Linked DNA regions of Homo sapiens. The protein of the gene in region 3 interacts with the protein of the main gene of each other region in a pairwise test. Each region holds a gene or a part of one and is shown on either strand. Other genes may lie near its edges. The genes, in order: ZNF438, SERGEF and DPH3.

Region 1 (7,109 bases), on a different chromosome or scaffold from region 3:
TGGGATTACAGGCACTTGCCACCACACTCGGCTAATTTTTGTATTTTTAGTAGAAACGGTTTCACCATGTTGACCAGGCTGGTCTCAAACTCCTGACCTCAAGTGATCTGCCTGCCTTAGCCTCCCAAAGTGCTGGGATTACAGGCATATGCCACCATGCCTGGCCATAAATGGAGCATATGTTCTAGAGAAAATGAAACAGGAAGAGGGAGCAGGGAGTTCACAATGGGATATAGTTTTAAATAAGGTCATCAGAGGAGATGCTCGTTGAGAAGAAGCCATTTGTGCAAAACCTTGAAGGAAACGATGCAGCAAGTACTGGGGATTTACTGAGGGAAGAGTGTCTTGGGTGGGCGGGAGTAGCCAATGCTCCTCCCAGCCAGGAGCCTCCTCTCAGGAGGTGCATGCCCAGAACAGCAAAGAGGCCACCATGGCTGGAGTGGAGCAAGTAGAGGAAATATGTCAAAGAGGCTCCTGAGAACCTTTTTAAGCATGAGGCCTTTTAAGCCATTGCAGGGATTTTGGCTTTACTCTGAGATGAAGAGCCATTGGACAGATTTGAGATGAGGAAGTCATAGATCTTGTGCTATGATGTGTTATTGTCACATATTCTTTCAAGAGGGTGAATTACTAAGCCTTTGTTCTAGCTCATCTTGCGGTAAATATTTTCTGCCCAGTTAGGAGGAAGAACTAGTGATAAATGACCCAATATTTTCTCTTCTCTTCCTTCCACACCCCAGATCTGTTGTGTAAATGCAAAGAACATTATTACTGTTAATGTAATTATTTATTAAGCCACATCTCTAAGTAACCAAAAGCCATCAATAATTTTAGGCTTTCTGCAAAGTCTCTCAATCCTGATTTAAAGTGTTTATTTATGACTTATTTTGGTACTTCTTCCAAAAAAAAAAAGATGAGAAGGTGAGGTTTAAAATGAAAAACATTTAAATTTAAAGGCTATGAAAATAAAACTTAAAAATTAAAATTATGTAGGAAGAAGTAGCAATCCATACAGATGACTATTGTCAAGTGATTTACCACTCAATTTACCCATAAGCGGAATTCACGGTAACCAAACTCAGAAGGAAAACAACAAATAACATAATTATCTTTGTCTGATTTTTCCAGACAATAGCACTCACTAGTCCTTGTACTTCTTACTCTCGTGCAGGCTATCCTGTGAACTTATGTTTCATAATGTCCTTTTTCTTTGCAAAACAATTACTTTCTAAAAATAAACTGGTCAATATAAATTTCACCTTATTTCTACTAGGTTGCTTGTTTATTTAGGCGGTGTCATTTCTGCTGAAAGAATCAACTTCCTGCTAAAATTGTTAATTCACTCACTGTAGGCATTAAAATCAAGGTTGACGGGCCGGGCGCGGTGGCTCATGCCTGTAATCCCAGCACTTTGGGAGGCCGAGGCGGGCAGATCACCTGAGGTCGGGAGTTCGAGACCAGCCTGACCAACATGGAGAAACCCTGTCTCTACTAAAAATACAAAATTAGCTGGGTGTGGTGGCACATGCCTGTAATCCCAGTTACTTGGGAGGTTGAGGCAGGAGAATCACTTGAACCCAGGAGGCAGAGGTTGCTGTGAGCCGAGATCGCACCATTGCACTCACCTAAGCAATAAGAGCAAAACTCCGTCTCAAAAAAAAAAAAGAAAAAAGAAAATCAAGGTTGATGTTACATTTTCTTTTCTTTTTTTTTTGAGACGGAGTCTCGCTCAGACTGTTGCCCAGGCTGGAGTATAGTGGTGCGATCTCGGCTCACTACAACCTCTGCCTCCAGGGTTCAAGTGATTCTCCTGCCTCAGCCTCGCCAGTAGCTGAGATTACAGGCATCTGCCACCATGCCTGGCTAATTTTTTTTTTGTATTTTTAGTAGAGACAGAGTTTCATCACGTGGCCAGGTTGGTTTCAAGCTCCTGACCTCAAGTGATCCGCCCATCTCAGCCTCCCAAAGTGCTAGGATTATAGACGTGAGCCCCCGTGCCCAGCTGATTTTACATTTTCAATTGTCTGTTTCACTAGATTGTCTGCTACCTACCTTGTATCCTCTAACAGATAGTGTTCAGTCCCCTACCCCCAACTCTAAAATCTAAAAAACTCTGAAAACAGAAGTTTATGAAAAGTTGTTACAAACTCATTCAGAAGCAAAAACTTGAACTGAAATAAAGACAATTTAAAAATCTTCATTTGTCCAACTTGCGAATATTTGCATGTTTTGCTACAGAAGTGGTAATAGGTTCAATTATGGGTGCCCTGCAGATTCCGCTGGGAGTTATGTAACATTTAGTACACGCATCTTACTACTTTTCCAAAATTTGAAAATATAAATTCCAAACCACATCTTCCTCCAAAAATTTCAGAAAAGGGATTGTGGACTTGGCAATAGCCAATCCTGGGATAATGATTGGAATAATGTAGGTGCCTAGTAAATGTGAATTGAAGTTTGATTAATATGAGATACTTAGAAATTAGAAACATTTCTGCAGCCAGGTCTTGTGACCTTGAGACCTCAGAGAATAAAATAGATAATTCAGTCTTTAGAAGCAGGACACCAAAATGTTTCCTTAATTGTTCTCTTAAGGTAGTAGTAATTGATCTTAGGTCAGGCTAATAAATCCAGAAAGAATGAAGTGTTACCCTATCAGTCAAAATTGTTCCTATTAGTATCCTAGAAGGTGCTTTTTATGCCATTCACATATTTTGCATGTTGTCTCTGTATCTGTACTTATCACTTTGTATCTTTCTGTTTTTTGTTCAACATTTTTTAAAGGTGTCACATCAGCTTTTTTAATACTGGTGATTTAATTGCAAAAGCACACATAAACAGTTTGAAAGGTGTGAGAAGAAATTCGTAAGTCACATGGGGAAACAGCAACAAAGCTAGCATTCAGTCTGGAATGCATCCACTGTGCAAAACAAATTCAACTGCCAGTGGGTCAAATGGTGTATCCTGAGATTGAGTGAAAAATGAGTTTGATACAAGAAGCGCTTGTTTTATACAAAGGATACAGTGGGAAATATCAAGATGAGATGAATATAGGCTGTACCCTCACAAAGCTGAAGCTTAATAGGGAAAGCAGAACATGTATATAAAATAATAAACTACATAGCAGAACATACCAGACATCATGTGAAGATGAGTGGGGATAGGTTAAATGGAGAGGATGGACTTGCAGAATACATGGATGAGAAGGACGGAATTTTCGCTGTCAAGCAGTGTTGACTAGTAGAGATACACATAAACACATAAATTATTATGGAAAATGGTAAATAACATAATAGGAGCTAAGGAACCATAGATAAGTATAGAAATCCTTGGGGAAGGTAGGCAGGAATTGATCTTCAAGCTGGTCTTGAGGGACACAAGATTTTGCCCAGAAGGCTTGGAGGTAGGTCAAGGAATCTGTTCTGGGCAGAGTAAATAAGATGCTTGTTGTTTGAAGTATCACTAACAGAACAGTTACATACAGTAACTCTTTATATTTTATTGTCATTGCAGGTGAATCAAACATCCCTTCTGGAACAATACAGAGTAGGAAAGGTTTGCAGAATAAGAGTCAGTTTAGGACCATTGCACCAAAAATTGTGCCCAAAGTCCTAACGTCCAGAATGCTGCCATGTCATTCACCATCACGCTCTGATCAGGTGAATCTGGGACCCTCCATCAACTCCAAGCTGCTGGGGATGTCCACCCAGAACTATGCCCTGATGCAGGTTGCTGGCCAGGAGGGGACATTTTCTCTTGTTGCTCTGCCACATGTTGCCTCAGCTCAGCCAATTCAGAAACCCAGAATGTCCCTACCTGAAAACCTGAAACTTCCTATTCCTAGATATCAACCCCCTAGAAATAGCAAAGCATCAAGAAAGAAACCCATCCTGATCTTTCCTAAGAGTGGCTGTAGCAAAGCTCCTGCCCAAACCCAAATGTGTCCTCAGATGTCCCCTTCCCCACCTCACCACCCTGAACTCCTGTACAAACCCAGTCCATTTGAGGAAGTACCATCACTAGAGCAAGCCCCAGCCAGCATTAGCACAGCTGCGCTGACCAATGGAAGTGACCATGGGGACTTGAGACCACCAGTGACCAACACCCATGGCAGTCTGAACCCTCCTGCTACCCCAGCATCATCCACACCAGAGGAGCCTGCCAAGCAGGACCTCACAGCTCTTTCAGGGAAAGCACACTTTGTAAGCAAGATAACATCTAGTAAACCTTCTGCTGTTGCCAGTGAAAAATTTAAAGAACAAGTTGATCTTGCAAAAACCATGACCAATTTATCACCAACCATTCTTGGCAATGCAGTTCAGTTGATCTCTTCAGTCCCCAAAGGGAAACTGCCAATCCCACCCTACTCAAGAATGAAGACAATGGAGGTTTACAAAATCAAATCAGATGCTAACATTGCAGGTTTTTCTTTACCAGGACCTAAGGCCGACTGTGATAAGATACCCTCCACCACAGAAGGCTTTAATGCAGCCACCAAGGTGGCAAGCAGGCTACCTGTTCCACAAGTGTCACAGCAGAGTGCCTGTGAAAGTGCCTTTTGTCCACCCACCAAACTTGATCTTAACCACAAAACAAAACTGAACAGTGGAGCAGCAAAGAGAAAAGGAAGAAAACGGAAGGTACCAGATGAAATTTTGGCATTTCAGGGAAAAAGGAGGAAATATATCATTAATAAGTGTAGAGATGGTAAAGAAAGAGTAAAAAATGATCCCCAAGAATTCAGAGACCAAAAGCTGGGGACCCTGAAAAAATACCGTAGCATTATGCCCAAACCTATCATGGTCATACCCACTTTGGCCTCCCTGGCTTCTCCAACTACACTACAGTCCCAGATGCTTGGGGGCCTAGGACAGGATGTTTTGTTAAATAATTCACTCACTCCTAAATATCTTGGCTGTAAGCAAGACAACAGCTCTTCCCCTAAGCCCAGCTCCGTGTTCAGAAATGGATTCTCTGGCATTAAGAAGCCTTGGCACAGATGTCACGTCTGCAACCACCACTTCCAGTTCAAACAGCACCTTCGAGACCACATGAATACACACACCAACAGACGCCCTTACAGTTGTCGGATTTGTCGCAAGTCCTATGTACGTCCTGGCAGCCTGAGCACACACATGAAACTTCATCATGGTGAGAACCGTCTGAAGAAACTCATGTGTTGTGAGTTTTGTGCAAAAGTGTTTGGCCACATCCGAGTCTATTTTGGCCATCTGAAAGAAGTGCATAGGGTTGTGATCAGCACTGAGCCTGCGCCCAGTGAACTGCAGCCAGGAGACATACCAAAGAACAGAGACATGAGTGTGCGAGGCATGGAGGGATCATTGGAGAGGTGAGTGCCAATGTAATGGAGACCTGGCAAGAGAGTCTGTTTTGATTTGGGGAAGAGGGGAAGATTTCATATTCAGAAAGGAGAGTTTATAAAACATCTCTAGGATTAAGATTTCATAAAGTAGCTATGTATACCTCCTAGATCTGTGAAGAATGATCTTGTTTCTCTCTGGTTTCTGATCATCCATACTTGGAATTACCCTAACCAATCTAGTAAAGTACTGTATATAGTTCCAGTGGTCTTTACAAGTAATTTCCCCCAAAATCACATCCACAGAATTTGCGTTATTTTAAACAGCATCATTTGCCCCAAAATGCGGCATGACCCATGGTTGGGGACTCAGAGTGGGTGGGTCTGTCATGTTGACCCTACCTTAAGGTGCCCAGACCCCACCCTCTTCATTTGCCCTGTTTTTCCCATCAGTTCGGGTTCACTCTTTCTGGTGTCATTCCTTTTTGCAAGCACTGCTTCCTGGTATTATTGCTATGGGATCCTTGGGGTGTCATTTCACCAGCCGGAAACCTCTGTGGCCAGTGGCGCCTTGGCCTGAGTTTTGCTCTGGCCCATTAGGCTCGTTCCACCCACTTGGAACCTAGCAGGCTGCACTCAGCTCATGCTACCGGCCTAGATCCCATGCCTGCCAAGGGCGAGCCAGGCACAGAGTGGTGAGGGATGTGTGAGTGAGCGTGGGGTCTGGCCACTGCGCATAGGCAGGCACGCCGGCTGCTGCTGCAGGCCAGGCAGCTCCAGGTGCCACCTCCTTGCAAGGCTGTGGCTGGACCAGGCACATCACAAGCAGCTTCCACGGTTGGCACCAGGAACATGATGTTGCCCAGAAGCTTGGAGACTAGGGAGTCACTGCCCTGGCTCAGGGGGCTCCCAGGACAGAGCTCCCCAAAGGGCCGCAGCTCTTCTCTTCACCTGCTGTGTGGCAAGCAAGAGGCGTGTTTCAGCCTGTTTGTGTTACAGCTCTCTTAGCCCCACCATTTGGCAGGTCTCAAGTTCTTGTCCTGCGTTCAGGAAGAATGAGGTACACAGAGAAGTAGAGGGTGAGCAAGATGAAGAGGAGCTTTATTGAGTGATAGAACAGCTCAGAGTTGAACTGCAGGGGGCAGTTCCTCTCTGCAGGCAGGTTTTCCCCGTCATCTCTTGTGCTCTCAGCAGAGAGGGTAGCTCCTCTCTGCCACTGGTCGTCCCATTGTCTCTTCAAGTCTGGCTAAGTCCGGGGCTTTTATGTGCCTCAGAGGAGAGGAAATGCGTGCAGTTGGTCCATGGGCAGTCATGGACAGACCCAGAAAAGCACCACAAGTTCCCACTCCAGTCCACATGACTGGCAACCTGGCCCCCAGGCTTCAGGGCTTCTCTGGCTTGAAGGTGGGGCTTCACCGGGGACCTCCCCTTTTCTGCCCAGGAGCTTCTTTGCTCCCTGCTTCTGTTTATGGCACCCAGGCTGTTCATGCTGAGGGGGCACCTGCAGGCTGGCACCGAGCTGTCCTGAGCACCCCTTCCTCAGCCTCCCTTCCATGCTTATTGGCACCCAAAGTCTGGAGCAGGCCAATGGGGTAGGAGGTGGGCATATCAGCACTGCCTCAAGCGTGTGCACACCCAACCAGGTTACAGCAGAGCCCAGGCTCAGCCCCAGCCTTGCTTTGAGATTGGAGCAGGTGCTGACAGCAGGGAGAAGCCAGGCAGCAGGAGCAGGTGCTTCTTGAGCCCGTGGGGGGAAAGGGGCCTTCCTGGACCCCTGAGAGTGCAGAGA
Region 2 (7,109 bases), on a different chromosome or scaffold from region 3:
TTCTCATCTCCAGGAAGAACCAGCTAGGAGTAGGTACTTGAATAAATTATAAAGATTTCTGAAATCTTAGTAAGATTCTCTCTGCAGGTCCACAATCCCTTGTCTTCAATTCTGAATACAAAAAGCTCTGAAAACCCAAAACTTACTGGACATAAGGCCATTTATAGTCTTTGGCCACTTCTTATGAATATTTGTACTTTGTAATGCAGAAATATTATTGTTTTGCTTATGGGCTGCTGTCCCTGGACCTTGCATCAGTATATATGACATATGTACTGTATTACTTTTCTAAAAGCTGTAAAATTCTGAATCTGAAATACATCTGACTGTAAGCATTTCAGATTAGGGATTATGGACCCTTTTTGTATAATAATAATAATAATAGACATATTGCCTGTCAAGGGGAAATCTGTCCCCTTACTGGAATCTCACCATGTGAATCTTGGAGTCACATAGCACTGTACTTGGAAAGGGCTTTAGAGATCATTGCCAGCCTCTTTCACTGTACAAATGAAATAATGACGTGCCTTGCTTTAAGGCAAGAAATCCTTAGCCAGCTTTGATTCCAGAGTCATTGTTGGTTTTCCCATCATGGGTGTGGGGAGGAGAAACAAGAACTAATTCCAGGATGTTGCCCTCCCATTTTGATGCCATTTCTCTCTCATTTTTTTCTTTCCTTAGCTTCCCTAGGTAGTTAGCTTTTATCAGAAGGAACCCCTGTGCTGTCTCCAAAAGGCAGTACCTGGGGGCTGGAGCATAAGAAGGGAAAGATGAGGAATATTACTGGCTGAGTTGTGGATGCCTAGGACTCTTCTCATATCGAAATCATGGTGTTCTGAGGATGGGGCCTCCATCTAAATATGGGAGCATATAACAGCCGTTAAGAATGAGCCTAACAGGTCATTTCCTCTTTGGTCAGTTTCCCACTTGACAAAGGAAGGGTAAGATTTACATTCCCAAATGCTCCAGAGTCCTTCTGGTGAGCGAATTATTATTATTTTTCTTTTCAGATTTTGGGGAAGGGATTTGAGGAGGGAAGAAAGGAGATGGGGTAAGAGTGTTTCTAAGTCTGAAACTCTCTCTGTCCTGAGCTGTTCCCGTGGTTACTCAAGGACAAGGGGAGACAGTTTTGCCCACAGCTCCAGAGACACAGATAACAAAGGAATGACCTTCATTTTTCTTCAGGTTGGACCCTGTAGGGGTCTGTGAGCAGCTTCTCCTGGAACTTTGTTTGGATTCTGTGTCCATATTTATAATTTATTTGAAACACGCTGGATAGTGTTCTCATTTGGGGGCTGAAGTTCAGCTAGGGAAAGCAGTGAGGTGGCATGGGTGCAGGAGGAGGGGGTAAGGAGAGATACGAGATACACCTGCCAACGACTCGTAGCCCAGAACTCTCTCTAGAGAAGAGAAGCCCCTCCTCCTCAAGAGGCTGTCTTGTTCTCAGTCAGAAGAACCTTGATTTAGGAGATGGCCTCTCTTTTCCTGGCCATTCTAAGAGGAAAGGCCATTTTACCCCATTACCTCCAGAGGGTTGGGCTAGGCCAAGGACCTCATAGGACTCATGTCCCCTTCAGCCATGGCTAGCATTGCTGCTTTGCCTTCTGGGGCCTGAGGTAGAAAAAAGTGTGGTTTCTTCAGCTGCTGCAGGAGGCCAAGCAGGGCATTTGTCCTTTGCCCCAGTAAATTAAGCCTGCCAGGGTGCCTACCTAGGAACTTTCCTGGACATGAATTTCCTCCACTGTTATGGTCATGAGTCTCTTTCTAATGGGATTACAGATCAGGGGTGGGGAGACAGTGTTACCTGTTGTTTTCTGGTGCTTGTTATTATATATTTGAATAAACAGTGCTGTGAGTATTTGCCGTGAAGGAGCTAAAAATTTTTTTTTAAAAAAGAATGAGCCTAATAAATCTCATCTGTTACAGGGTCTGAGAGATACGTCAGGGTGAGAGAGACAGAGACAGGTAAATAGACATTGACAGTTGTGGTTCCCACACTTTTTCATCCTTGGCTTATTCATCCCTAGGGTGCAAATAGCTATGGGCAACTTGGCCTCGGCCATAAGGAAGATGTGCTGTTGCCCCAGCAACTGAATGACTTCTGTAAACCCAGGAGTGTCAGGAGGATCACAGGAGGAGGGGGCCACTCTGCAGTTGTCACAGGTAATTTCCTTCAAAAGTAGATAGTCACTCATTTTCTTATTTAGACGTTTTCCCCTGGATATGATATTGCCATCTTTCAGCCTTTTGTATTTTGCAGAGGAAAATAATGTATTTTTGTGAAACATTTTTGTGAAAGAGCCAAATTACCATCAGAAGATCCTAGATTTTCAGGGCTAGAAGGACTTCAGAGATCTTCTAGGCCACCCCTTTCCCCCACCCCCTCCATTATACAAATGAAACTCAGAAAGGAACACTGATTGCTTAACATCACAAGGCAAAGTAGTGGCAGAGTTACAATGTATATTTTACACCATAGGAATTAGAAGTCTTTGTAATTAGATTGGATATTCCTTGAGAGCAAAAACTGTGTGTTCCCCTTAATCTTCCCTTACTGTATCTAGGATAGCACTTAACAAGTAGTACAAGTGCTACAATGTTGTAAAGGGGGGCATATTGCATCTGGTTGAGAACATGAGCTCTGGAATCAAATCTCTGGGTTCAGATCCTGGTTCTGTGACTTATTATCTATGTGGCCTTGGGCAAATAGCCACAGTTTCTGAATCTGTTACATGAGGATAATAATGGTGGGTGAAGAGAACCAGTGAGTTAGCAGGGCTCCATTCCGACTGTCATGGGTCGTTGGTGCTTTTCCCTTTATGGACCTCTTCCTTTGTAAAGAAAAAAATTATATTTTACAACTGTGTTGGTATAAAGATGGATATTAATAGAATCCACTCCAGATTTAGTGTTATATATGCATTGTTACTATATTATCTTTTTCTCATTTAAAAATAACTAAAAATTAAGCCACTCTGTGGGCCTCTGAAAGCATTGTGGGCCCTAGACACTGTGCCTAAAGGATAAGTCCGCTCTGCACAAAAAGCTCTTAAAACAGTACCTGGCACGTTCTCAATGTTGAATAAATGTTGTTGGCTTTTTGTTCCAGTAGATGCTCAGTTTGGTGATTGATTGACCACTGCGCCAAGACTTGAAGTTTCTCTGTAGGTATTAGTTTGAGGCCCTTGGCCTTGTGTTGTTTGGCTCCAGAATACATGAACATACACAGCTTATTAACTTGGATGGCAAAAAAAGTTATTGGTCTGAGAGTCCAAATAATTAGTGAAATCTTTTTGTTCATTTTGCAGTTGTGTTTTTTCCTGTGCACGCTATCACTGATGCCTTTATATTTTGCAGATGGAGGAGACCTCTTTGTTTGTGGCCTGAACAAAGATGGGCAACTGGGGCTTGGTCACACAGAGGATATCCCATATTTTACCCCCTGCAAATCCCTCTTTGGCTGTCCCATCCAACAGGTGGCCTGTGGCTGGGATTTTACGATTATGCTCACAGGTGAGTTCACTCCTAGGTAGATTTTTGTCACCACAAAGGCTTTGGGTGAGAACAGTATGATGATGGTGACTGCAGATTAAATGAAAGCCTCTTTGTGTTTAAAAAGCACACATAAGGCCTGGTGCGGTGGCTCACAATTGTAATTCCAGCACTTTGGGAGGCCAAGGCAGGTGTATCACTTGAGGTCAGGAGTTCGAGACCACCCTGGCCAACATGGTAAAACCCCGTCTCTACTAAAAATACAAAAATTAGCCAGGCGTGGTACCCCATGCCTATAGTCCCAGCTACTCTGTAGTCCCAGCTATTTGGGAGGCCGAGGCAGGCGAATCACTTGATCCTGGGAGGTGGAGGTTGCAGTGAACTGAGATTGCGCCACTGCACCCCAGCCTGAGCAACAGAGCAATAATCCATCTCAGAATAAATAAAAATAAATAAAAAGCACACACAAATTTTCCCTCTGGTTGTCAAGGAAAGTTGTGGACTACCTTTTCTAAGGAGAGTTTAACGGTAAAGGAGACTGGGATTGGGGTGGAAAACTTTTGTCAGAGAGTAGGGAATAGACTAGATCACCTTTGGTGGCCACTTCCTGTCCCAAAAGTTCATGATAGCTGTGTGCTTGGGGTAGCTGGCCAGTGGCCAGCAGTGGCAGCAGAGGGTTACTTACAGGGAATGTGGTAGGAGAATATGAGGCAATAGTGGTTGCCAAAGCAGTGATGGCAGCTTTTTCACACTGTGGGATTTTTTTTTTTCTAAATGTGTTAGGCAGATCTGTTTGGTCTTTGTGAAGCCAGGTAGCAGGATAGGATATGGCCAGAGGGTTATTAGAGTAATGCACTTGGGAACAGCCAGCAGTAGTTACCTTGTCAGCTGACGTCTGTTCCCTTGAAGCAGTTTTGACCTCTCTGTTCAGCTTTGCTCTGTCTAGCTGGCCATTCTGGATTTAAAGGACCATCTGTGGTTTCTGACCAGGCTCCCTCTTTGCCACGGTCCTTTGGCAAGGGCATCTTCTGTCACTCTCCTGTCATAAACCCTTGTGGATTCTCCCAGACATAGCTCAGATTCCTAGCTTTTTAGCGTTGGCCTTCTGTAACTGTTCCCTAGCTATCTTTGTGCTGTGTCTCTTATTCTCCACACTCCTCATACTTTTCTTTCTGGTCATACCAAGCAGTATATGTTCTTCTGTCTGTCTGGACCAGCCCCTCTTGTCTATCTGATGGACTCGAATCCCAGCTTTAAAACCCTGCTCAAGTGTCACCATCCTCCTCTGTGGAGGGGTTCTGTAATATGTGTTGAATTTGATGGTGATTATTAGAATCTAAACAATAACTATCATTTATAAGGTGTTTATTGTGAGCCTATGTTTTGGATTGTAAGGAGTCAGTAGATAATGCTCTTTCCTGCTCACATTTGGAGCCAGTTGTGAGAAAAGCACAGAGAAGTCAGTATTGGAGATTAAAAACTATTGGCTTTTCACTGGTAAAGGCTAAATTGGAGGACAGTATTAATTATGAGGCCAGTGGTCCTAATATTCTTCTGGTCCAAACTTACCCCCAAATCTCTAGGCTTTCCCCACAGGGAAATGCTTCCTATGTGTCAGCCTAGAATGACTGAGAGGGAGGTGCCAAGCCACACATGTCCTGTCCCATCTCCTAAACTCACCAGTTGGTTACATGACCGCTGTCCCCTAGAAAGCAGTGAGGATGGGGAAGGGCAGGGAGAAAAGCTGGAGTGTTGTTTTACTAATGGAAATTTTGTCACATGGAAACATGAAAAATGAAAAATTACTATCCTCCCATCCCAATACGAGGCACTGAGTTAAGTGTTCTACACAGATAATCTGTTATTAATGAGAGAATAGAATAGACAATCTGTGTAGAGTGCTTAACCTGGTGCCCAGTGTTTTCATTCCTAGAGGAATAAAAGCAGGGAATATGGTCTGAATGCACTGAAGCACTTCCCCTCATCCCCTTTGCATCTCTCACCCTGCAGCATTTACCCATTGGTCACAGACATCTTACTTCATAGATTTGCAATTTAAGTATTTGTATTTTGCAGAAAATGGTCAAGTTCTATCATGTGGATCCAACTCCTTTGGCCAGTTAGGAGTTCCTCATGGACCTCGAAGATGTGTGGTTCCCCAGGCCATTGAGGTGAGGACAGTTAATATTTAGCTTGCCCATGACCTGTTAAAGTGTTTCCAAGGTATTAACCTATCTCTCCCCAGAATAAAAGGCTGTCAGGATCCCTGAGAACCCATGGAGTAGGAGAATTTGAGTTGAAAAATAGGTCCTTCTGGGAAAAATTAAGTTGGGAGGTAAACGTTGTGAATGAAAACCTCTGTTAGTTTTCATACACTTCATATGAAGTTTTGTGAAATAAAACAATAAGAGTAATACATCTCATAAGGATATTGATGACATTTTACAGTTCTAAAATTAGTAATAATGGAAATTATGTTAGAAATAGGTCCAGATAGAAGTGATTTGTCGAAAGACACTAAGCTAGGCAAATGGTATAGGCCAGTGCTAGCCAGTAGAAATATAATGTGAGCCATATGTAATTTAAAATTTTCTAGTAGCCCTATTTAAAAAAGAAACAGGTGAAAGTAATTTTTAAAATAACAGCATTATTGAGCTGTAATTCACATACCATAAAATTAACCCCTTTAAAATGTATATCCACAGAGATGAGCAACCAATATCATTATCTTATTTTAGAACATTTTCATTACCACCAAAAGAAACTATGTACTTAATAGCAGTCAATTCCTATTCTCCCTTCCCCTCAGCCCCTGGTGAGTACTAATCTACTTTTTGTCTCTATAGATTTGCCTGTTATTTCAGCATGTCATCAGTATAAAGTTATTTTTTGTTTTTATTTTTATTTTTGAGATGGAGTCTCACTCTGTTGCCCAGGCTGGAGTGCAGTGGCGCGATCCCGGCTCACTGCAACCTCCGCCTCCCAGGTTCAAGCAGTTCCCTGCCTCGGCCTCCCGAGTAGCTGGGATTACAGGTGCCTGGCACCATTCCCAGCTAATTCAGTATAAAAATTATTAACAAGGTATTTTATACTGATTTTGTACTAAGTCTTTGAACTCTGGTATGCATTTTTTACTTACAATATGTCTCAGTTTAGTGTAATCACATTTCAAGTTTTCAAGAGCTATGTGTAGGTAGTGGCTACCATATTGGACAAAACAAGTGTTAAACAGGACTCTTGGCTCTAGTTCAGAGCTCTTTACTTCAGTGCATCATACTTAAAATCACCCCTTTTTGTGAAGTTTATATTGTAAGTGATCATAATAGGAATATAGAATTTTTAAAGAAATATGCTTGAATCAAAAATGAGTTTTACCACCTAAGCTGTCCCACTCCGATCTAATTTCCCTAAACTCTGATTAATAGTGGGAGATGTTTTTTCCCTAGAGAAAGCTTGGGTCTGCCCCTGCCAGCTTGCTGAACTCAGTTGTTGGTCTGTGGACTGTTATTTCGGGTCATGGTTCCCATGGTATGCACAAAGTCTAGGCTCTGTAGTCCCTGAAGGAAGTATTATAGCTCCCAATTGCAAATAGATGGCCTTGTAAGCACCTACATATA
Region 3 (7,813 bases):
TGCTTTAGGCATGAAGAAAACAAAAACTCTCTTAGAGAGCTTGCATTCCAATAGATGAAGACAGAAAATAAATAAAAATAAATAAATCTGATGGTGATATAAGTCATATGCAGTTTATTTGGTTATACCCAAATCATATTAAAAAGCTCACTGCTTCATAACTAGTCTTTAGATAAACGATATATTTCTTCTTGTCATAGTATGTTGCAGCATCATTGCGGATAAGCATGCTACTTGCTATTTTTCTCTTTACTAAATGAAAAAAGCAGAAGGCCTCTTCAACCTCATTCAAGACCACTAAACGTAGTTTTTCTCCATTAAATGTTCTAAGTCAATAATGTTACCTTAATCCCTGAAAGAAAGAAGTTGAAACTTACCTTAGAAGTCCACGAGATTTTAGGAGTCATTAAGTATATGGTCAGCTGATTGACAGAATATTTTGGTCCTGCTATTACACTGAGACTTTTGGATGTACAGCAGTTGGAACATGGACAGCTTTTCCATGCATTAAAATTCTCACAAAGTTCCTGCAATGGCACAAACAACATATAACAATGTTTTGGGGAACTGATCAAAAGCACTATTACCTCTTAGCTGCCAAAGGAAAGGCTCATTAAAATCAGTAGGCATCACCTCACAACAAGCCCACTCTCAATTACCCCCTCTCCATCCATTCTTTCCTCCATGCTTCCATTTTTCTTTTTTGATTATTTATCTTACAGCTTATTTTGTTCATCTTCCTTGCCTGTCTTTAACACCTGCTACTTAGGATATCCACCCCAGGAAACAGCAGACCAAAGGCTAGAATGACACAGTTACATGTCATTTAAGGCCAAGTTCCCTGATAAAATTTAACCACTATATTGTTAAATATGGAAATACTGTTCTGTTCAATGTTTTAGACAACTATTGCTAAAATAAGTTGTCCTCACAATAGGATACATCATTTAATGATTATGCTGTTTGAATGGTCCCCTTCTCAACTGAACTGGAAAACAAATGTTAATTTTAAAAGTAGTTCTTCCCGGGCACAGTGGCTCATATCTGTAATCCCAGCACTTTGGGAGGATGAGGTGGGTAGATCGCCTGAGGTCAGGAGTTTGAGACCAGCCTGGTCAACATGGTGAAACCCCATCTCTACTAAAAATACAAAAAATTAGCTAGGTGTGGTGTCGGGCGCCTATAATCCCAGTTACTAAGGAGGCTGAGGCAAGAGAATCGCTTGAACCTGGGAGGCGGAGGTTGCAGTGGGCCAAGATCATGCCATTACACTCCAGCCTGGGCAACAAGAGCGAAACTCAGTCTCAAAAAAAAAAAAAAAAAAAAAAAAAAAAAAAAAGGAGTTCTCTTTAAAATCCTAAGATTTTATTTTGTGAAAGTAACCATGACCAAGAGTGCCACCTACTGGTAAATAAAGGACATTTTTATAAAATTCTGTTTAAAGTGCTTTCCAAAGCTTTATGCCAGTCCTTTAAATAAAATATAAAAAATTTAAAACCTACTAATTTTTTGAAATATGTCCGGCGGTTCCATACTGTAAGCATTTAATCAACCACAGCAGATCAATATATATCAAGTTATTTCTAAAACCATATAAAGTAGACCATCCCATCAATGTCTGTATCCTCACAGGCCTTCCCTTACCAAAAAATCTTAATTAACTTTATTTCTGAAATGCAGAAAAGTATAATAAGTGCTAAATAAAACTGACACCCATTAAATATGTAGTAAAACAAACTTCTGAAAGCAACAGATTAAATTTAACATTTAAGATTAATTATATGGTTTCAGTTCAACAGGTATACTCAGTTCATTCAACAACTACAGGGGTGCCAGGCACTATTTTAGGCCTTGGAGATATAATAAAGAACCAGACGCAAGGCCCTTGCCATCATGAAGCTTTTATTACAGTTCCAGAGACAGATAGTAGTAAACAAATAACAAGATAATTATAGATTATGATGAGTATGATAAAGGGAGTAAGAGTGATGGGGTAGGTGGGGGAAATATCAAGAAAGACATCTCTCCAGTGATGACACCTTGGCTGAGATCTGAATGATGAGGAAAAGGCGGCCAAGCAAATGTTAAAGGCAGACAACTCTGGCAGAAGGACTAGCAAGAGCAAAGGTCCAACACAGAAATAAGCCCGGCATGTTAAAGGAACCAAGGCCAGTGTGACTGGAGAGCAGTAAGCTGGTAAGAGTGAAATGAGATGAAGTCCAGCAGTCTATAGTAAGGGTAAGAATTTTATCCTAAGGGTAATGGGAAGCAACTGAAAAGTCTGAATCAATCAGGAGAAGGACAAGACCTAATTTATATTTTTAAAGGACTGCTCAAGTTGCTGTGGGAAGGATAACAGAGGGAGAGGGGCAGGAGTGGAAGCAGGAAACCCAGTTAAAAGACTCTGGTCTAAGATTATAATAAGGTAACAGCTACAGAGATGGCAGAAGTAGATGAACATGACATATATTTTGGAATTAGAGCCCCAAAACTTGCTGATACATTAGGCAGGGTGTGAGAGGACACTGACAGAGAAAAGCCAAGAATGCCTCAATAAGCATAAATGCACTGAAATTAAGTAAGTTCAAAGAACAATCATGACATCTGTCAATTTAGAATCTTAGGTGTCACTGAGGAAGAAAAAGGGCTCCTCTTGCTCCAACAGGCAAAGACACCTTAGTGGTAAACAAGTAGTATACACAGAGTATTTGACCGGAAATCAGCGGAACTGGGCTCAGGTGTGACTCCTTCCTGCTTTCTAATCTTCAGCAAGTCTCCTCTTGCCATTTTAACATTACCCACGCCACCTCACTGGATTACTGAGAGGAATAAATAAAATGTCTACCAAAGTACCTGGCAAGCAACAGTGTTACTAAAATCAATCCTAATACATTGACCCCTTCTCTTCCTTGTCAAACAACCTAGAGAGGTGGAGGTTTGGTATTGCCAATAAACAACTCCTTCTGGCCTGATATACAACAGCACTCATCAAATATAGTTTGCATTATACAATTATGACCTACTTCTTTTTTTTTTTTTTTTTTTTTTTTGAGACAGCGTCTAGCTCTGTCGCCCAGGCTGGAGTGCAGTGGCGTGATCTCAGCTCACTGCAATCTCTGCCTTCCAGGTTCAAGAGATTCTCCTGCCTCAGCCTCCTGAGTGGCTGGGATTACAGGCACACCACCACACCTGGCTAATTTGTGTATTTTTTAGTAAAGACGGGGCTTCATCATGTTGGTCAGGCTGGTCTCGTATTCCTGACCTCGTGATCCGCCCTTTTAGGAATAAATGTAAAGTTTAGTAGTCATTGTAATGTTTTCTTCAAAAGTGCACAGGGATATATTATGTATATGTGTTACGTAAATGTAAACTAAATGTTATATATCATTGCTGAACCAAGTAAAGCTCATAATTTCCGTGCAAAAGTGGAACATTACATCTAAAAAGGATCTTATATCATCTCTACTCCAATCCTTTCTTAGAAGAGGAAATAAGGCCCAAAGAATGTAAATATCCAGTTGCCAGAGGTAATCAACAACTCAAGATTCCGATCCCAGATCTTCTCTCGAAAGTGCTTTTTCACTACAATGCATTTCTTCTCTACTAAGATATTAAAATGCCTAGTAATTAAGTAAGACCCAATGTAATCGGTTTTACCAAAACAGGCACTAGCACTGCTTTCAAGACAAAAATGCCTTTTATCTGCATTTCGCTTCAAGGCATACATAGGCCTCACACTGATAAACCTGCCTACTGACACCATTTCTTTCACAACGAAAAAACTGGTACTCACATAAGTAATTTGTTCCTGGGCTTTGGAGACAGACAAGCTCTTCATTATTTCCCAGGTGTATGATTTTAGTCAAGATGCCCAACTCTCTGTACCTCAGTTTAAAGATTAATAAAATGGAATAACATGTAAACTCCTAGAGTTGACAATTCCACTTAGTGCAATAGCTGGCACATAACTTCCCAATAATAAAAGGTGATGTTATTACTATTACTAAAAATCATCGTCGTTAATAATGTTATAAGCCTGGCAAACAGAAGACTAGAACTCAATCCCTGCCTTCCAGGGCTTGGTCCTTTCAGCAACACAATTTAGGGTATTTTAAGGCGTCTGGGGTGAGGAAGAAGCGGAATGTACCTGCAGCCAGGAATTAACAAGCTGACCGTCGCCCTGGGCTCAAGGTCACTCGGTGAAGCGAAATTCTACGGGAACTGTTCGTCCGTCACCAGGAAGGGAGGTCGAGGAGGCTAAGCTGCTCTCGCCTCCCCACCCCGCCTTTCCCGAGGGCCGGGAGGCTGCTACCTAGCACCTGCTGCAGCCTTCAGCGGGCTATTTAAGGCGTTAAAGCAGACGATAAGAAGCAGGGAAACTTTCCCCGCTGGCACCTAGCTTGCAGACCCGGCCACGTTTAGTTGCAGGCGCCTGGAATACTCCGCGGTCCCAGACGTGACGTAGCAGCGCGGGCGAGCCCCACATTCTATTGGTCGCTGCCGCCCAATAGGAGGAGCGGTGCGCGACCCCGCTGAGCAAGCTTTCAGTCTTCCCAGTGTCTCCGCCCCTAGTTCAGCCATCTCCATGGTGACCGCTACCGGTTATCCATTTGGCCGCGCAGGGCGGAGTTGCGTCATTGCCTATGCGCCGGAAGGGCTAGTCCTTGCCCGGCGCGACCTGATGATGCCGAGCCCAGGCCGGTTCCGGCGAAGTTAAACCCTCGGAGCTGGCCTCGGACTGCTGGGGCGTTACCCCTTCGGCCACCCCCGCTGACCATGGCAGTGTTTCATGACGAGGTGGAAATCGAGGACTTCCAATATGACGAGGACTCGGAGACGTATTTCTATCCCTGCCCATGTGGAGATAACTTCTCCATCACCAAGGTAACTTCAGGGTCCCGCCCGGCGGTTCACCCAAGCAAGCGCAGTTTGGTTCCGCCCGTTCCTTCCATCATTGGGTAGCCTTTGCTGCGCTGTGTCACCCACGCCCTCTTTCCCGTTGCTGAATCTTCCTCCTCCCGCGTCCCCCCACCCCAACTAATGCCCTGAGCTCTCTCGGTAGGCACGCAGTTCTGGCCTTAGATTAGGTCAGGGAGAGGGTGGCGGAGAGCCTCTGTCTCTCTGCCCGATCCCTGCCTTAGGGTCCCAACCTGGGATATTTCTGTCGAGGAGGGGACTCGTTTTTTGTTTCCCAGGGCTTTTGGGGCGACCGAAGCTCGCCTGACCTTCCTAGGTGTTTCCCCTAAGTGACGCTTCTAGGGGAAAATGATGTCGGCATTTCTCGCTGAAGGCCCTGGGGTTCTCACCCACCTTGGGGGGAAGGCAAGCCACCAAGAGACTTGCATCTAGGGGTGGGATAGGTTTGGGGGAGGAGATGGCGAAGAGAAGCTATCCTGACCACATGGTATTTGATTTCGTTGTAGGAAGATTTGGAGAATGGGGAAGACGTGGCAACGTGTCCTAGCTGCTCTCTCATTATAAAAGTGATTTATGACAAAGTAAGGGATATAATTTTAAAACGGGGGAAGGGTATTGTAAGTCAGTGGCAAGGACTTAGATCAGCTTGTCAGTGATGAGTGCAGGAGAATGTTTCATTGTGCTAGGTAAAGTGCGGTATTTTTTTAGGCAGGTTTTAAACACCATTGATAAACAGCCGAATAGTAAATTAAAACGTTTAAAGTTCAGATTACGTAATTTATTTTAGCTTTAGAGATAAATCTAGCTTTAGTGAAAATTATTATTTATTAAATAGAAAGTATATAGATTATTTTAGTGGACAATTTTTTATATTTCTCTTCTATTTAATATGTAATTAAAATTGTTTAGAGCTGCTAGACTTACTTTGAAGGGAACAATTGTATGGTATTTCGTGCTGGCTTATACACAGAATTCTGCATTATCTTGTTTGAGATATAATTCCTAGGTGCAGCTTTACAATTTCATTTTAGTCTTTAGTTGCCCTATTATCTTTCACCCAAGGATGTTGACAATAGAAAAAAAAAATGTTATTACTGCCCACTCCTACCCAAAGTTTTGTTCAGTACTTGGAATGGAATCTTAGGTAAGGACCTTAACACTCTCAAGGATGAAGTCCAAAATGAATATAGGGAAAGTGGGGATGAGGCACAGAGCCTCATGAGAGAAGCGGGCTATAATTTAGACTATAATTTAGAAATATAATGATTCATTCTTGTATTAAAATGTGCTCTGCAACAGAAAGCAAACGGTAAGGAAGATCAGGAGTGCTGGTCTGGGAGGAAGTTGCAGTTTTCCATAGGGTGATCATGGCAGGCCTTACTGAGAAAGGCCTTAATAGGTAAAGATTTGAAGGAGGTGAGGGAGTGAGCCATGTACATATGAGGGTATGAGGTAAGAGAGTCGAGCAAAGGATCGTTCAGTGAAGGGGACCTAAGACAGGAACATGCCTGATTTTATCAAGGAACAAAAAGGAGGCCAGTGTGACCAGAGCAGAGCAGGATGAGAGTAGCGTAAGAAGTTGTGGATCACTTTAAGGACTTAGGCTCTTGTTGTGAGTGATATAGGGAACCATTGGGGGATTTTTGAACATAGGAGTGCTATGATCCAACTTAAGTTTTTTAAAAAATGATTCTGGCTGCTGTGTTCAGAGTAGCCTATAGAGAGCAAGCATAGAAACAGGAAAACCAGTGTAATAGGAGGCTATTACACTAATTAAAGAAGGAGATGGGTGGCTTGGACCTGGTTACAGCAATGGAAATAATGAGAAGTACTTAGATTCTGGATACGCTTTGAATAACTGATTGGATATAGGGTGTGAAGGAGTGAGACAAGGATGATTTCAATATTTGTGACCTTAATAACTGGGAGGATGGAGTTACTGTCAATTGAGGGAATGTAACTATAGGTATAGGGGTTGAAATTGTACATACTAAGTGAGAGGTCTGTCATCCAAGTTGAGCTGTTGAGAAGGCAATTGGATATGCATGTCTGGCGTTCATGAGAGAGATTGGCTAGCAATGTCAATTTGGGAGTTATCAGTAACAGATAGCATTTAGAGCCATGAGATTGGATGAGACCACCAGGTCTGTGAATGTAGAGATGGATAAAATACAGGACTGAGCCTTAAGGCACTACAGTATTAAAAAGTCAGGGAGGGAAGCGAGGAATCACCAAAGCTGATGGTAAAGGAGAAACCACTGAGAAAGGAGGAAAATCAGCAGTGTCAAATCCTGGAAACCAGATGAGAAAGGATTGAGGAAGTGGTGATCCTTGTCACGTGACACTGATAGGAAGCAATCAAGAATTAACCATTAGCTTTAGCAACACTGAGTTCATCTGTGACGGAGATGAGAGCAGTTTCCATGGAGTAACAGGAACAGCGCATGAGTGAAGAAACCAATGGGCAGAATACTGGTTGGAGAGAATGAGAGAACAGAAGGCAGTGAGTATAGGCATTTCTTTTAAGGAGTTTGCTGCAAAGGAGAGCACAGACATGGGACAGTAACCAGTGGTGATAGAGGATCAAGAGAGGGTTTAAGGTGGTAGAAATTCAGCCTTCATTAGTGAATATAGACATGGAAAGTTAGATTTAACCAGGTTTAAGGTTTTCCCAAGTGAATAGTAAGGAGTGAGAGAAGAGTGGTTATAACTGACCATGGAGTTTGAACTAGGTAAAGAGAACATGAAGGGAGTGAGGGGCAGTGAAAGGGTGGTAGGATGAATATGGTGGAGGTCCAGAGGGGTTGGAATATGGCATCCAGGGTGGATAAATGACAGCAACAGAGAAGAATAGCAAGGCGGTAGTCTCAAGACATAAGATTCTAAACTGATGGGT

What was found.
Region 1: the proteins of DPH3 (region 3) and ZNF438 interact in binary tests that used the Homo sapiens proteins (3 or more experiments, as listed by UniProt).
Region 2: the proteins of DPH3 (region 3) and SERGEF interact in binary tests that used the Homo sapiens proteins (3 or more experiments, as listed by UniProt).

The regions. Positions count from the first base shown.
Region 1 is NC_000010.11:30,846,772-30,853,880, reverse strand, and holds part of ZNF438 (zinc finger protein 438), read left to right. Parts: intron 1-3,513; coding exon 3,514-5,350; intron 5,351-7,109. UniProt on the Homo sapiens protein: Isoform 1 acts as a transcriptional repressor.
Region 2 is NC_000011.10:18,002,995-18,010,103, reverse strand, and holds part of SERGEF (secretion-regulating guanine nucleotide exchange factor), read left to right. Parts: intron 1-2,027; coding exon 2,028-2,163; intron 2,164-3,357; coding exon 3,358-3,513; intron 3,514-5,568; coding exon 5,569-5,663; intron 5,664-7,109. UniProt on the Homo sapiens protein: Probable guanine nucleotide exchange factor (GEF), which may be involved in the secretion process.
Region 3 is NC_000003.12:16,261,840-16,269,652, reverse strand, and holds the start of DPH3 (diphthamide biosynthesis protein 3), read left to right. Parts: upstream 1-4,709; 5' UTR 4,710-4,776; coding exon 4,777-4,884; intron 4,885-5,423; coding exon 5,424-5,498; intron 5,499-7,813. Other genes in the region: OXNAD1 (oxidoreductase NAD-binding domain-containing protein 1), read right to left, coding at 378-527, 3,794-3,838.